Linked DNA regions of Homo sapiens. The protein of the gene in region 2 purifies or fractionates together with the protein of the main gene of each other region. This does not show direct contact. Each region holds a gene or a part of one and is shown on either strand. Other genes may lie near its edges. The genes, in order: ATP13A3, ZDHHC9, RSPRY1 and TPX2.

Evidence for each region.
Region 1: the proteins of ZDHHC9 (region 2) and ATP13A3 purify together in Homo sapiens (co-immunoprecipitation; one large-scale study listed by IntAct). This does not show direct contact.
Region 3: the proteins of ZDHHC9 (region 2) and RSPRY1 purify together in Homo sapiens (co-immunoprecipitation; one large-scale study listed by IntAct). This does not show direct contact.
Region 4: the proteins of ZDHHC9 (region 2) and TPX2 purify together in Homo sapiens (co-immunoprecipitation; one large-scale study listed by IntAct). This does not show direct contact.

What each region holds. Positions count from the first base shown.
Region 1 is NC_000003.12:194,476,959-194,480,740, reverse strand, and holds part of ATP13A3 (polyamine-transporting ATPase 13A3), read left to right. Parts: intron 1-3,782. UniProt on the Homo sapiens protein: ATP-driven pump involved in endocytosis-dependent polyamine transport. Uses ATP as an energy source to transfer polyamine precursor putrescine from the endosomal compartment to the cytosol.
Region 2 is NC_000023.11:129,809,105-129,812,886, reverse strand, and holds part of ZDHHC9 (palmitoyltransferase ZDHHC9), read left to right. Parts: exon of another isoform or gene 1-66; coding exon 67-169; intron 170-1,377; coding exon 1,378-1,481; intron 1,482-1,885; coding exon 1,886-1,982; intron 1,983-3,782. UniProt on the Homo sapiens protein: Palmitoyltransferase that catalyzes the addition of palmitate onto various protein substrates, such as ADRB2, GSDMD, HRAS, NRAS and CGAS. The ZDHHC9-GOLGA7 complex is a palmitoyltransferase specific for HRAS and NRAS.
Region 3 is NC_000016.10:57,203,329-57,207,110, reverse strand, and holds part of RSPRY1 (RING finger and SPRY domain-containing protein 1 isoform 1 precursor), read right to left. Parts: intron 2,608-3,782; 5' UTR 2,453-2,607; coding exon 2,103-2,452; coding exon of another isoform or gene 2,099-2,102; exon of another isoform or gene 1,730-2,098; intron 1-1,729.
Region 4 is NC_000020.11:31,798,085-31,802,377, forward strand, and holds the end of TPX2 (targeting protein for Xklp2), read left to right. Parts: intron 1-280; coding exon 281-468; intron 469-2,885; coding exon 2,886-2,996; 3' UTR 2,997-3,716; downstream 3,717-4,293. UniProt on the Homo sapiens protein: Spindle assembly factor required for normal assembly of mitotic spindles. Required for normal assembly of microtubules during apoptosis. Required for chromatin and/or kinetochore dependent microtubule nucleation.

The DNA.
Region 1 (3,782 bases), on a different chromosome or scaffold from region 2:
TTGGTTTTAATTAAGTGCATATATGATGTGACTCCACAGTGTGAATAATGGAGAAATAACTTAGGTATTTATGAACATCTGCTATCTCCGTAAGGTTATGCCACAAAAAGATCTAGTATAATTAAAAGGCTAGGTAATAAAGTTGAGAATATTAGGAGATTATTGGTACTGTCTGTCATTCTGAGGGGATACTCAACTACTTTGAGTGTTTTTGTTTTGTTTTTTTAAAGAATAAATTTATTCCTTACTGCTAGCAAGATCTGCATTGTTTTAAAAGAGCGATGTAAATTATTAATGGATTCCATGAAATTTAAAGTATCTAAACTTAAGTATTACTCTGGGGATAGCACAGTAAGAAAACATGAGTATGTAAAAACATGATGGTGGCTAAAAACTTAACAGTCTTATGTCCTGGGAGAGGGCATGGTGTATTGGATAAAAATGTGGGCTTCAGAGCCATAGTGATTTTGAATTACAGCTCTGTCACATACCAGTCTTGTAGTCTGGGTTAAGTAAGTCACTGAACCTCTGAGAGCTTTTTTATTTGCCAGATAGAGGTGATAAAGGGTACCTTAGAGAATTGTAAGGATAAGAGTCTGAGTGAAGGGTAACTTATTATTTGTTAACTTAGTAACATTGAAGATATTCAAAACAAGTCAGATGTGTGTGTGGGGTGTGATTGATGATTGCTCTTTGTTTTTTTGTTAACTGGAACAGCAGGCAATAATGTTATATTCAGGCTTTTTATGTCCAAAACAATCTATGATTTTGTATCTTTAGTAGCAACATCCTCAAAAGCTCAAGATGTTAACCTCATGTATCTCCGATATACATTTTATGTATATTTTAGTTTTTCTCTTTGTGTCTCTGGTGTGTTTGCAGTCTGTTTTCTCTCCCATCTTGTTACTGTTACCCAATGTCTCTGTCTCTGACCACCTTATAAAATTTAAAACTATCTGTAATTGTATTTATTTTATAGGACTTTATATGCATTATTTTCATTTAAAAATTCTGATTAGTCAAATATTTCTACTTTTTTTTTAAAGAAGACTTTGAATTATATTTCAATTTTGTGACCTTTAGATTTCTTTAAACATGGAATCCTAGTCACTGGTTCCTTATAGACCGAAGATTTTTCTTTTTTTTAAATTTTATTTTATTTTACTTTATTTTTTTAGACCAAAGATTTTTCATTCATCTCTAGATCATGCCTTAGCTTCTTAAGTCACCAGTTTTCTAAGCTCATTTACAATTTTCATCTGTAGTTTCCTTGTTTCTCCTTTTTTTAATGTTTATGTTTCTAATTTTCCTAAGCACAAAAGATAGAAACCTATTTAATGCTAATTATAATAAGTAGATTAGTATACTAAGTAAAATGTAAAGTACAATAGGCAAATGACATAATTTTGTCTGTAGCACTTACTTGAAAGACTAGACTAACCTAGCACACGCTTAATTGAAATATTTAATGGGTCTTTTTGATATGAAAATGTACTTTTCATAATTGTCAGCACTGCCTTAGAGTTAGTTGAAGAATAATTTTAAGCTAACCCATGGTTTTCTGTTCAGTGTTTGATGAAGAGAATAGAATAAGCTCATTAATTTAGTCAGATTCAGAAGCATCTTAAAGAGTACCCCCCGCCCCAATCCTTTCTAATCTCTGGTGCGGCCCATAGTGACTCACTATTCTTCATGTTCCCTTAATAGTTGTGGCAATGATAAGTTATTGTAGTGTATAAGAGTTGTGATTTTATAGGTAGCAAGGAAGGGGGCTTGGTTAGGGCCTCTTGGTTATGCCTTTAGGACTGTGTTGGTACTTCTAACTATTTAATAGTGTTTTAGTTCCTGTACATGCCAAACACAGGGCTGGATGCTGGGGAGACATCGATGAATGAGTTCTTCTCTCTTACACATACACAGTCCAGCAGGTAAACACTGTGCTGTTGCATTGCACAAGTCCAGAGGATACCATTCACGTTGTATTCTTCAGGAATATGGCTCCTTGGCCTGGCCTAGGATCTCTTTCAGGTGACAAAAGTTCAGAATCTCCATCACCTACAAGATAATCTGTATTGTTTATCATGTCTAACAAGACCCTTCCTTATAATCTGATCCTGTCCTATCCTTCTAAACCTCCATTTGTAATTATTCCTCAAAGGCTATCACCCCGTGCACCAGTCAGTTTAAATAACTTGTTTTCCTGGCATTTTTTAGGATCTCTCACTATAGTACCTCTGCATGTGGCAGTTCCCCTGCTTGGGTTTCATCTCTCTATTTTCTCCCTAACATTTTTCCTCTTACTGCTTGTTTGCTTGATCAAGTTTACATCCTTCTGGTCTTAGATCAAGAGATAGTTCTTTTTTGAAGTCTTTTCTGTTCTTGGTTCTCTCTTTCTCCCTGGTGCCATTGGTCACCATTTTGTTTGATATTTGTTTGCTTACTTATTTGTCTAGCCTACTAGATGTGGTTCCTTAAGGTTAGAAATTTAATCTTGTAACCTCCAGCATTTAGACCACTAGTTGGCACATGGTAGGCAATACCATTCTAACAAATGAGTTTTTATGAAATCAAATTGGCAATAAACCAGAATGATTATTGCTAGAATGCTAATTTAATATTTACAGATTTATCTGAAAAATTAGGATACTTGACAACATCTTGGTTTTCTGATTTAATTTACCTTTTTCTAGTCAAGCAGTAGTTTGGGGTTAGATTTCAGGGAACTGCTTGGCTAGAGTGAAGACACTGTTTTAAGTTCATTGGTGAACATGTTGGTGAGAACTTTCTGTCTGCTGAAGAATTAACCATAAGTGGTCTCAAACTAAAACAAAGACACAGAGGTATTCAACCCAAGAAGAATGGATGATCTGTAGGATGGTAGTGTCTGCCCCAGCTCTGTCTCTACCTGTAGCACTCACTGCAGCTAATCTGTAGGAGTGGATGAAGTGAGGTGGAAACACTTCTGGGGGGCCCAGTCAGGAAGAGACTCCTAGATGCTTCTGGGCCAGTCTTTCTGTGCGATAGAGTGTCCACTCCCCATATCCTCTCCATACTTCTTTTAAAATTTTGTTTCTTAGTGATTCATCTTAGGTTAACAGCTATGAGAAGCTGTCACTAATTTATGTGTTAACTTCTGAACAGAAGGATCCTGATTAAGAGGAAGAGGAAGGGTTGATCTGAAGAACATAGTGCTGTGGTGGAGGTTGTGTAGAGTTCCATGAGGTCACTAAGGGACCTGGGAACACAGGATATTGGGAGAGCTGGGAAAGGGGAATAGGGATGAGATGCGGGAGCATGCCAAAGACAAAATTACTTTGTTGTCAAATTTTGCCCACAAAAAGAAGAGGGATTCCACCCCTCCTTCACCCAGTCTTGCCCTGTCTCCTTTATTCAGCTGCACTGCTGGATGCTTGCCTGGTTCCCAGCCTTTAAGGTTTTTAGTCTATAAGTTCAACGTTGTTGGAAAAGTGCTCTGATACCTGCAGAGGTGGGAGAAAGGTGGGGGCAGTCCTCTGCTAGGAGATGGAAGGGACAATCAAAGCTTAGTAGCTTGAGCTGGTCCTGGAAGAGCAAGTAGGAGCTCTTTAGCCAGACTAAGAGAAGGGCATTCTTGGCAGAAGGAATATTCTATATAAAGAAGTGGAGTCAGGGAACAGTAGGGCTCTTTGAAGAACTACAGATTGTGTTCTAAATGAATGACATGTAAGGTTTGTAAGGGGCGAGTGATAACCACTGATGAATGGCAGATGGTGTTGACAACTAGGCGGGGCCAGAGTCTGTAG
Region 2 (3,782 bases):
GAATATGGGCGGAGGCATCAAGTCTCCTGATGTTGAGTTCTTCAATACTCCTTAACCACACCTCACTGTTCTAGAAGTCCTCATTTGCTTCTTTACACTCTGGTCCGTCGTGGGACTGACTGGATTTCATACTTTCCTCGTGGCTCTCAACCAGACAACCAATGAAGACGTGAGTCAACTTTCTCTTCTCCTCACCACATATTCTTCTTCCCAAAGCCTATCCTCTTGCTACCTGCTAGAGAACTACCGAGTCTCCAGGGCCTGGGAGGTTGAGGCAGGCAGAAACGTGGTATGCGAGGTTGTTAAGTCAGATGTGTGGAAGAGAAAGGAGAGGGCTTTGTTGAATGCTTGTGGAGCATTAGGAAGAAGAGGTTGAAAAGTTGGGTGGGTATACAGCCTTTAACTGTTCACAGGTCCTTAAAGGCTAGCTGGTGCCTCTGTTTGGCATGGAGAGGGACAGTTGCACTGGATGAATCCTTGCTATATAAAAAGTTACCAATTAGGCTGGGTGTGGTGGCTCACGCCTGTAATCCCAGCACTTTGGGAGGCTGAGGCGGGCGGATCACCTGAAGTCAAGAGTTCAAGACCAGCCTGGCCAACATGGCAAAACCCTGTCTCTACTAAAAATACAAAAATATAGCCGGATGTGTTAGTGTGCACCTGTAGTCCCAGCTACTCGGGAGGCTGAGGCAGGAGAATCACTTGAACCCGGGAGGTGGAGGTTGCAGCGAGCAAAGATCACGCCACTGCACTCCAGCCTGGACAACAGAATGAGACTCTGTCTGGAAAAAAAAAAAAAAAGTTAGCAATTAATCTACATTCACTGTAGAAAATCAGAAAATACAGATGAGCAAAAAGAAAAAAGTAAGTTCCTCTTACTTTACTTCTTAGACATCACCTTTGTTAGTAGTATGATTTATATATTCTAGACTTGTCTAGACTTTTTTCCATGTTTATTTATGTGTTTATATTATGTACTTTTAAATAAAAATAGTATATATCATTCAGTTATCTGCTTTTTTCACTCTATTGTGAGTATTTTTCATGGCTGTGTATGTATTTCTTTTTTGTTGTGATAAAATATACATGATATAAAGTGTGCTATATTAAATGTCTTTCAACCCTGGCGATCAATGGGGTGACAGTTGTTGCAGCCAGATCGCCCTCATATCCTAAATGTACAGTTCAGTGGCATCACATTGTTGTGCAACCATTGCCACCATCCATTTCCAGAACTTTTTTATTATCCCATGCTGCATGTGTTTCTTCAACATTATTATTATTATTTTTCTTTTTTGTGTCTGTTTTTAATTTTATTATTATTATTTGTTCATTTTAACATTATTTTTAATGTCAGCCTTGGTTTTTATCTTGCAGATCAAAGGATCATGGACAGGGAAGAATCGCGTCCAGAATCCCTACAGCCATGGCAATATTGTGAAGAACTGCTGTGAAGTGCTGTGTGGCCCCTTGCCCCCCAGGTGCTCAGGGCACTCAAAAGTCCTGGGACTGTTGGGATGAGCAGCTCAACCTGATCCTGTTACCTTGTCTGATGTGTTTTTCTGAGTGTGGCCTCTTGGTGTCAAATAGGTCTTTCCAGGGCTTGCCACTTGGTACCATGTCTACATGGACCATAGACCATGGGCTGGTTGTTTTGGAGGGATGATCTTTCATTCTTAATTTCATTTGTTTGTTCCCTGGTTAATGTGACATTTCCTGGTTTGTGGAAGAAAAAGTGAATGGGAGATAAGAGGCATGTGCTGTGTTCAGGCTAGATTGCCAAAGGACAGGTTTATATTTTCCAGTCTATGCAGCAAAATTCCGTAGGCCAGGTGGGTGGAGGGGTGAATGCCCAGTTCTTTGTTAACTCTCTTATCTCCTTCAGTGTGCTGGATCGAAGGGGTATTTTGCCACTGGAGGAAAGTGGAAGTCGACCTCCCAGTACTCAAGAGACCAGTAGCAGCCTCTTGCCACAGAGCCCAGTAAGTGTTCCTGACTTAAGGCTGGGTCGATATAGAGAGGGCGGAGGCTAATTTACAGCTTGGAAATATAATTAGGCAATATTGTATTCTAATCACCCCAGCTTCCCTGCCTCTACACCTGCCCTGATGTTGCCTTCAGATCTTTGTGTCCTTGATGTAGATTAAGATTTAGTCATTTCTTTGGTGTATATTGAGTGACTCTGTGCCAGCCACTGTACTAGCTGCCAGGGTTATACCAATGAATGAGGCAAACGATGTCCCTGCTCTCAAGGAGCTCATTGTCTAGTGGGGGCAAGAAACAAGTAAACAGGCCATTGCTCAACATTGTGAAAAGTGCCTTGATGAGGAAAGCATAAAATGCTATAGGGGCAAAGACAGAGGTCAGGGGATTGTATTAGAGTTAGTGATGTGGTTACTGTGGTAGAAGGGGGCTTCCTAACTGGAATATGCAAAAGTTGTGGAAACTCTCCCAGCTGTCCTATTTAAGATATATAAAGTATATCTTTAAAGTATATAAAGTACTTTCCTAAAAAAAAATATTACTTGAGCTTTTTTTTTTGAGATGGAGTTTTGCTCTGTCACCCAGGCTGGAGTGCAGTGGTGTGATCTCGGCTCATTGCAACTCCACCTCCCAGGTTCAAGCAATTCTCTGCCTCAGCCTCCGAGTAGCTGGGATTACAGGCGCCCGCCACCATGCCTGGCTAATTTTTGTATTTTCACTAGAGACAGGGTTTCACCATCCTGGCCAGGATGGTCTGCATCTCCTGACCTCGTGATCCTCCCGCCTCAGCCTCCCAAAGTGTTGGGATTACAGGCGTGAGCCACCGTGCCCAGCTGAGCTTTCTTTTTTTAATAAGAACTTTATTGAGATATGATTCACATACCATAGGTCCCAATTTTTTTTTTTTTTTTTTTTGAGACGGAGTCTCGCTCTGTCACCCAGGCTGGAGTGCGGTGGTGCAATCTCAGCTCACTGCAACCTCCGCCTCCCGGGTTCTCCTGCCTCAGCCTCCTGAGTAGCTGGGATTACAGGCATGTGCCACCACGCCCAGCTAATTTTGTATTTTTTAGTAGAGACGGGGTTTCTCCATGTTGGTCAGGCTGGTCTCGAACTTCTGACCTCAGATGATCTGCCCACCTCAGCCTCCCAAAGTAGAGGATTACAGGCGTGAGCCACTGCGCCCAACTGATCCCTATTTAAAATGTATGATTCACTGGTCTAGAATATTCACAGAGTTGTACAATCATTATAACAATCAATTTTAGAGCATTTTCGTTACCCTTCCACCCTAAGAAACCCTGTAGCCATTAGCAGTCACTCTCCCTTTCCCCTGAACTTCCCCAGCCACACCCCTAGGCAACCACTAATCTACTTCCTTTTAGTACAGATTTCTCTCTTCTGGGTATTTCATGTAAATGAAATCATACAATATGTGGTCTTTTGTGACTGGCTTCTTTTACTTAGCATGTTTTCGAGGTTTGTCCATGTTGTACTATGTAGCAGTACTTCGTTCCTTTATATGGCCAAATGATATTCCATTATATGGATATACCACATTTCATTTATCCATTCATCAGTTGATGGACATTTGGATTGTTTCCACCATTTGATTATTATGAGTGATGCTGCTATGAACATTTGTGTACCAATTTTTGCATGGCCATATATTTTCATTTCTCTTGGCTATATACCTGGGAGTAAAATAGCTAGGTCACATGGTAGCTCTATGTTTAACCTTTAAGGTACTGCTGAACTGTTTTCCAAAGTGGCTGCACCATTTTATACCCCCACTAGCAGTG
Region 3 (3,782 bases), on a different chromosome or scaffold from region 2:
CAATGCATATTTGCGCTGTTCACTGCAGTGCTGTTTGTAAGAACAAAAATTTGGCAGTAACCTAAGTGACCATCACCAGATGAAAATGTAACAAAATATAATACTTTCAGGCATACAAGGGAATACTCTGTAATAGTCAGAAGCAGTTGTAGATTTATATACAGTAACACAGATTTCGATGTTGAGAAAAGTTAAAAACAAAGAGGTTTGTATAACTATGTCACTCTCTTTTAAAATATTGCAAGGGGCCAAGCGTGGGGGCTCACATCTGCAATCCCAGCACTTAAGGAGGCTGAAGCTCGACAATCGCTTGAGTCCAGGTATTTGAGACCAGCCTGGGCAACATGGCAAGACCTGGCTCTACAAAAACTTTTTTAAAAATTAGCCAGGTGCAGTAGCACACGCCTGTAGTCCAAGCTACTTAGGAGGCTGAGGTGGGAGGATGGTTTGAGTCCAGGAGGCTGAGGCTGCAGTGAGTCATGATCACGCCACTGTACGCCAGCCTGGGTGACAAAGTGAGACCCTGTCTCTTTAAAAACAAAACAAAACAAAAAAACTCTCTCTCTCAAAGTCTATTCTGCACCCATTTTTCCAATGAGCTTAAATTAACATTGTTTGTGGTTTACTTCCTTATTTGGGAAGGATAACTTTTATTACAATTTGGTACAAGGGATTTAAAAAATTTTTTTTGATTAATTAATTTTTGAGACAGGGTCTTGCTCTATTGCCCAGGCTGGAGTGCAGTGGTGTGATCATAGCTCACTGCAGCTGGAAACTCCTGGACTCTAGCAGTACTCCGGTCTTAGAATCCTGAGTAGCTGGGATCACAGGCAAGTGCCACTGTACCTGGATAATTTTTAAATTTTTTTTGCAGAGATGGGATCTCCCTATGTTGCCTAGGCTGGTCTTGAACTCCTGGCCTCCAGCTATCTTTCTACCTCAGCCTCTCAAAAGTGTTGGAATTACAGGTATGAGCCATTGTGTCTGGCCAAAAAATTATTCTTCTCGAAGACTAACAAATGCTCCAGTATTTTATGGAAAAGTTTAATACAGCTCTAAAAATTCGTTTGTATTCACAGGTACACTCTGTTTTATGCTTAATTTTTGAGGAACTAAACGAAACTGGGTTTCTATAAATGCGATTATCAAATGTTTATATACTTAAATTTACTAGCAGGGCCTGAAGCAAAAAGAACACATAAGTAACTTTTTAAAAAATACTACCATCTACTGAGCAACTGTTAAGTACAAAGCTCCACACTGAATGCCTTATGTACATTATCTCATGATAATCCTTGTGGGAACAATATTATCCCCCCATTTACAGATGAGGAATCTGAGGCTTCAAGAAGTAACTTACCCAATGTCATGCAGTTAGTAAGGCACTGGGCCAGAACTTGAGCTAGGCCCATCATGGTTCTAAGCTTTGTGCTCTTAACTACTGAAATATACAACCTTAAGTTAAATGTTTTTTTCTACTTGGATGCCCTTTAATTTCACTGTTATTCAATCTATGATTTTGTATTTAGAGGTAGACAAAGCAGAGGAAAAGACAAAACAGGTACAGGTGTGCCTTGCAGTATCAACTGACAAGCTTCCTAAATGGATTAAAGATAGTCAAATAAGGGATAAAGGATCAAATAAAGGATAATGAAAACTCTCCTTGACCTTAGTCCTTATGTTGCCAAGAGAAGTTGCCTGTAGCCATGTTCTTGGTAAAACAACTTACCTTGAATCTGAGGTCAGTGGAATAGACAGGCATGTACCATTAACAGTGAGCCTTCATGAAACCATTTCCTATTGTAGCTAGCAACATAAACTCACTCCATATTTACTCTATTCTCTAATAAAGATCATAGCTTTATCGTGTTTTCTGCTACAGAAACATTTAGACATTTCCAGACAAAGTAGATGACAGCAAGCAAAAACATCAAATCTTATCATTTACTCTGCCATCAGCGGAGCATTAAAATATTCTCCTTTGCCCTGTGAGCACAAGGCTTGGCGAGTATGTCCTAAAGGAACTGAAGGAGTCCTAAAGTCATGGTTCCGGGCAGAACACTTTTCATTCCACTGGAGGTGACCGTGAGTCAGATACTTACTTATCTACAAGAGTCCGTATTACTGCCAGTGTGTCCAACACTAGCCCATCCACATTTTGTTTCTTTCTCCTTGGCTCATGAGGTCCTCGGCCCCTCCTTGGTGGCCGAACAGGGTCCCGTGGTTGGCTCCTTGTGTCAGCAGTGGGTACTGCACTGTTCTCGGCCTGTTGCTGTTGGGTGTCAACACTGTCATCTGTTCCACTGTCATCTCGGCAGATACAGGAATTACCCATGGTAGTAGCGGCACCTCCAGTCCCTAGGAAGTGGGCTATGTGCTCTTCGAGAGTCAACAACAGACCCTGGCCAAGGCTTCTGCTCGCTAAGAACACGGCCCAACCAAAGACGATCATTTAGGTAGTTTTCAGTTTTCCAAGTACTGTTTTCATAACCTGGAGTTGAGGAATTTGCATCCTATTTGTTTTTAACAACTGAATGCCAAAGAAAGTTGCAGAGCTTATTCCCAACATTATCAACTACAGGGGATTCTGGACATCCAATGGCAGTTCTAAAAGAAAATGAGAAAAAGGAAAATGAATAAAAGATTCTTGACCACTTAATTACTCAAATTTTCCTAGTCTGATTTTATAGATATTAGGATTCTAATGAAGAATTATCTTTGGTTATTTTTATAGGTTTCCAATACAAAGAGATAGCTTTGGATAACAGAATTCGCAATCAATCAATAATTTCTTTTTATCATTCTGTTACAAAGTTGATTGCCAAACCATATTCTTATAGACCAGAGGAGTTATCATTGATTTTTTTAAAACCACATGTATAGTTTTTCCTGTCTATATAGAAATACATTAGAAGGATGTGTGCATTTTTTTTCAAGGGCTCCTTTTATCATAAAAAAAGAGTTGTCTTTCTGTGTAAGAGGTAGGTGTTAAAAAGAGAAAAATCTTTAAAAAAATGAATTAACTCCTTTCTTTAAACCCATAGGATAATTTAACAAGTTTTAAATAAAATAATTACAGACGTTTGTTGTTAAAAAAAAGTTATGATACAAATATGATAGCACCATTTGATATCAAGGAGAATAAAAGGATAGAGTTTCCCATTGGAAGCTCACTCAAGAACTGACAGAATTCATACAAGTTGTTGCAAAGTGTTTCTGTTATGTAAGCAAGGCTTTGTTTTGGGAAAGGAAAACTGATATCACAAAAGTTGTATTTTCACAATGATCAGTTTGTTGCACATGTCTATTACAAAGTTCAGAATAAGATGCACCAATTTATCTTTGCCTGAAAATACTGACTAAGGACCTTGTGCCAGGTACCACGCTGGACTAGGAGAATAAAGATGAGTAAGGAATAGTTCCTGCCCTCCAGGAATTCATGGATGGCCATTCTCATCCCACAAAGTATGTTTATCATTAAAAACCTAATGAAAGAACCAGCTCTTCAAGAAGCTGGTAAAATCTGGTTAGATTCTGGAAGGAAGTAAAGATTTAGAAATAGGAGACTTACATGGGCTGGTAGCAAAAAGTAAAAAAACAAACAAACAAACAAAACAGGCTGACAGCTGGAGAACAGGCCACATAAGGAATAGACTATGCTAGTGTGTAGTCTCTACACAACATCTGGCTAGTTACAATTAATTCCTCATACCTTGAGCACTGACCAGGAATAATATAAACAAAATTTATAATTCAGTGGAATTAGAAGAGAAATATTACTC
Region 4 (4,293 bases), on a different chromosome or scaffold from region 2:
CTATGTCTGCCTCAAAATCAATCACTATATAGTTTTGTGCAAGCTACTTTATGTCTTTGCCTTTTTCCCAATTACACCAGACGATTTCCAGGGGCCCTTTGAACTCTTAAAATTCTAAAACTTTTTGTATTTAGTTGGCTCTACCTTTCTCCCAATGGGGCTTGTTTAGAGCACAGTCTTCCTGTTAGTGTGCATGTCTGTGCCACTTGCTCATTCCAGGGGGCGTAGGTTTATGCAAGTCCTGCTTGTGCACCAATATTTTTTCTGTTTCTGTACTTAGAGGGCCTTTCTGGTTCTCTAGTTCAGGAACCTTTTCAGCTGGCTACTGAGAAGAGAGCCAAAGAGCGGCAGGAGCTGGAGAAGAGAATGGCTGAGGTAGAAGCCCAGAAAGCCCAGCAGTTGGAGGAGGCCAGACTACAGGAGGAAGAGCAGAAAAAAGAGGAGCTGGCCAGGCTACGGAGAGAACTGGTAACTGGGAGCATGAGCACTGACGAACACAAACATGCCTCTGTTTTATTTTACCTGTACCTTACCTTGTACCAGACAGGATCTAAGGTAGCCCGCAAGGCTGTACCAAAGACAATGAGTGAAAGGGGGAATTGCACAAACTGAGGGTGGTGATGAAGTTGAGTTGTGAATGAAGCTAACGATGTGTACATTGTGATCTAAGTAGGAGCTGTAATTTTGGCCCTTTTTAGGAACCAACCTGTCAGTTACAAAACTCGCAGTGTTCATGAGACATAAGACAGTTGTTCAAAAAATACATTTATCCCTTTGATAGTGAATTTTTAGACAGAATTTCTTCCGGAAGTTTTCATAAGGAGGACAACATGTGGTATAACCATGATGCCTTTCCTAGGACTGTTTTTTATTTATTTGTTTATTTTATTTATGTAACTTATTATTTCCTCTGGGGTTAAGAAGCACCACTGAGTTTTGTAATTAGACAAGAATACATAGCGAAGGACATGGGAATTAAATGGCAACTGTATTTTTGTTTTAATACTGAGCCCAAACTCCTTGGAGTTACAGTGTTCGTCGCTCCAGGTAATCCTCTACTAACATAATTATTTAGATGTTGGTTATCCAAAAAGAAACCTGAACTCCACATTAAGGACCAATCTGCTAGGAGGGCAGCAAGTTGTGTTAACTGTGTTAATGAAGAAGCAGACAGTTTTAGATGGAACTTCGTATGATAAATAAAAAAAGAAAGGGTCATGGGGAGATGTTGGTAAAAGGTTACTTAGTTACAGTTAGATGGGAGGAGTAAATTTCAAGAGATCTATCATATAACAAGGTGACTGTAGTTAATGATATATTGTATTCTTGAAAACTGTAAAGAAAGTGGATGTTATGTGCTCACACTACAATAAGTGGATGTTATGTGCTCACACTACAATGTTAATTAGCATCTTGCTAATTAACAAATGCATTATCTCACATAGTAACCATTCCATAATGTATGTCTACTTTAAAACATCAGCGGTACACAATAAAAATATACAGTGTTATCTGTCAATTAAAAAGAAAGAAGGCCAGGAATGGTGGCTCACACCTGTAATCCCAGCACTATGGGAGGCCCAGGTGGGTGGATCACTTGAGGTCAGGAGTTGGAGACCAGCCTGGCCAAAATGGCGAAACTCTGTCTCTACTAAAAATACAAAAATTAGCCGGGCATGGTGGCACGCACCTGTAATCCCAGCTACTCGGGAGGCTGAGGCAGGAGAATTGCTTGAACCTGGGAGGCCCAGGTTGCAGTGAGCCGATTGTGCCACTGCAGTCCAGCCTGGGGGTGACAGAGCGAGACTGTCTCAAAAAAAAAAAAAAAAAAAAAAAAGAAGTGTAAGTTGTTGAGGTTTTGTCTAAAAGTGCTATACTACAGCTGGATGTGGCAGCTCACACCTGTAATCCTCACACTTTGGGAGGCCAAGGTGGGAGGATTGCGTGAGCCCAGGAGTTCAAGAAAAGCGTGGGCAACATAGCAAAGTCCCATCTCTATTTTAAATAAATAAATAAAATGCTAGACTAGCAGTTGAAACAGCTATTGGCAGCTATTGGCATAGGTGATTATGCCCATAGGAAGGTTCCACGGACACACTATTTAGGAGACCAGCCTCTTGGTAAAATCTAGACTACCATTTGCTGAGTGAATGAGAAAATAGTATAATCCCCACTCTATATACACTCATACAATCAGCCTTTTTTCCCGGCCTCAACTTTGATTTTTCTTTAGCATTTGGTACCTGCCTCTTGTGTTTGTCCCCATTATAGAACTGCTTCTTGCAGCAATTCTCAACATAACTGATGGCAACATTGTAAAGCACAATTCAGTCAATGCTGGTTAACTCTCTACTAATCTGGCTTGATTTAGGATTGATTTTAGACTACCCTAAAGGATGGATGGGACCATGCCTTCTTTAGCCACCCTTCCTGGTATGGTTGTTGTGTTTTGTTTTTGCTTTTTCCCCAGGATTCAGGCTTTTGGTGAATATTTATAGTCAGTAAACTTAAGACTGTACTCTGGGAAATTCTTAGCTTGTAACTTCTCTGCTATACTTGAGTACAGCCCTATTATACCCTAGTAAATCACACAGGACATAGGTTTGGCATTCTTTAGTGAAAGCTGAGGGACTTGAGGAGACTGTGGCCTAAAGGAAAGCTGGGGGACCCAATAGAGACCTGAATAGAAACCCTTTTGGGCTCCAAAGCACATACACTTTTCCATCATACCGTGTTGCCCCCCAGGCCCCACTCCCCACACCTGAAACTAGTGACTGGGACCTGTAAAACTCTACAAACATTTTCTCAAAAAGAAAAAAATAAAAGCAATTATAAGCGTAGTTCTCTGACATCCCTCTCACTGGTAACTTTTCCTTACTTTGCAGGTGCATAAGGCAAATCCAATACGCAAGTACCAGGGTCTGGAGATAAAGTCAAGTGACCAGCCTCTGACTGTGCCTGTATCTCCCAAATTCTCCACTCGATTCCACTGCTAAACTCAGCTGTGAGCTGCGGATACCGCCCGGCAATGGGACCTGCTCTTAACCTCAAACCTAGGACCGTCTTGCTTTGTCATTGGGCATGGAGAGAACCCATTTCTCCAGACTTTTACCTACCCGTGCCTGAGAAAGCATACTTGACAACTGTGGACTCCAGTTTTGTTGAGAATTGTTTTCTTACATTACTAAGGCTAATAATGAGATGTAACTCATGAATGTCTCGATTAGACTCCATGTAGTTACTTCCTTTAAACCATCAGCCGGCCTTTTATATGGGTCTTCACTCTGACTAGAATTTAGTCTCTGTGTCAGCACAGTGTAATCTCTATTGCTATTGCCCCTTACGACTCTCACCCTCTCCCCACTTTTTTTAAAAATTTTAACCAGAAAATAAAGATAGTTAAATCCTAAGATAGAGATTAAGTCATGGTTTAAATGAGGAACAATCAGTAAATCAGATTCTGTCCTCTTCTCTGCATACCGTGAATTTATAGTTAAGGATCCCTTTGCTGTGAGGGTAGAAAACCTCACCAACTGCACCAGTGAGGAAGAAGACTGCGTGGATTCATGGGGAGCCTCACAGCAGCCACGCAGCAGGCTCTGGGTGGGGCTGCCGTTAAGGCACGTTCTTTCCTTACTGGTGCTGATAACAACAGGGAACCGTGCAGTGTGCATTTTAAGACCTGGCCTGGAATAAATACGTTTTGTCTTTCCCTCCCTGATTGTGTTATTTGATGTTTTTAAATCTGTTAAGCCCCTTTGGAGGTCACATCTTATTGGGAAATGGGTAGTTTGAGAGGTGGGTCCAGGAACTTTTTTTTTTTGAGATGGAGTCTCGCTCTGTCGCCCAGGCTGGAGTGCAGTGGTGCGATCTCTTCTCACTGTAAGCTCTGCCTCCTGGGTTCACGCCATTCTCCTGCCTCAGCCTCCCGAGTAGCTGGGATTACAGGCGCCCGCCATCATTCCCGGCTAATTATTTTTTTTGTATTTTAAGTAGAGACAGGGTTTCACCGTGTTAGCCAGGATGGTCTCGATCTCCTGACCTTGTGATCCACCCGCCTCGGCCTCCCAAAGTGCTGGGATTACAGGCGTGAGCCACCATGCCCGGCCCAGGACAGTACTTTGTAATTTTTTTCTGTCTTATGTCAGAATATCTCCATATTCTGTTAACTCTCTCTCAGTAACCACTTAATCATGTATGTTATGCCTTCACACAGACTGTACCTTCTTCCCTAAAGACTCAGCTCAAGTTAAATTTTTTTTTTGAGATGGAGTCTCGCTCTGTCACCTAGGC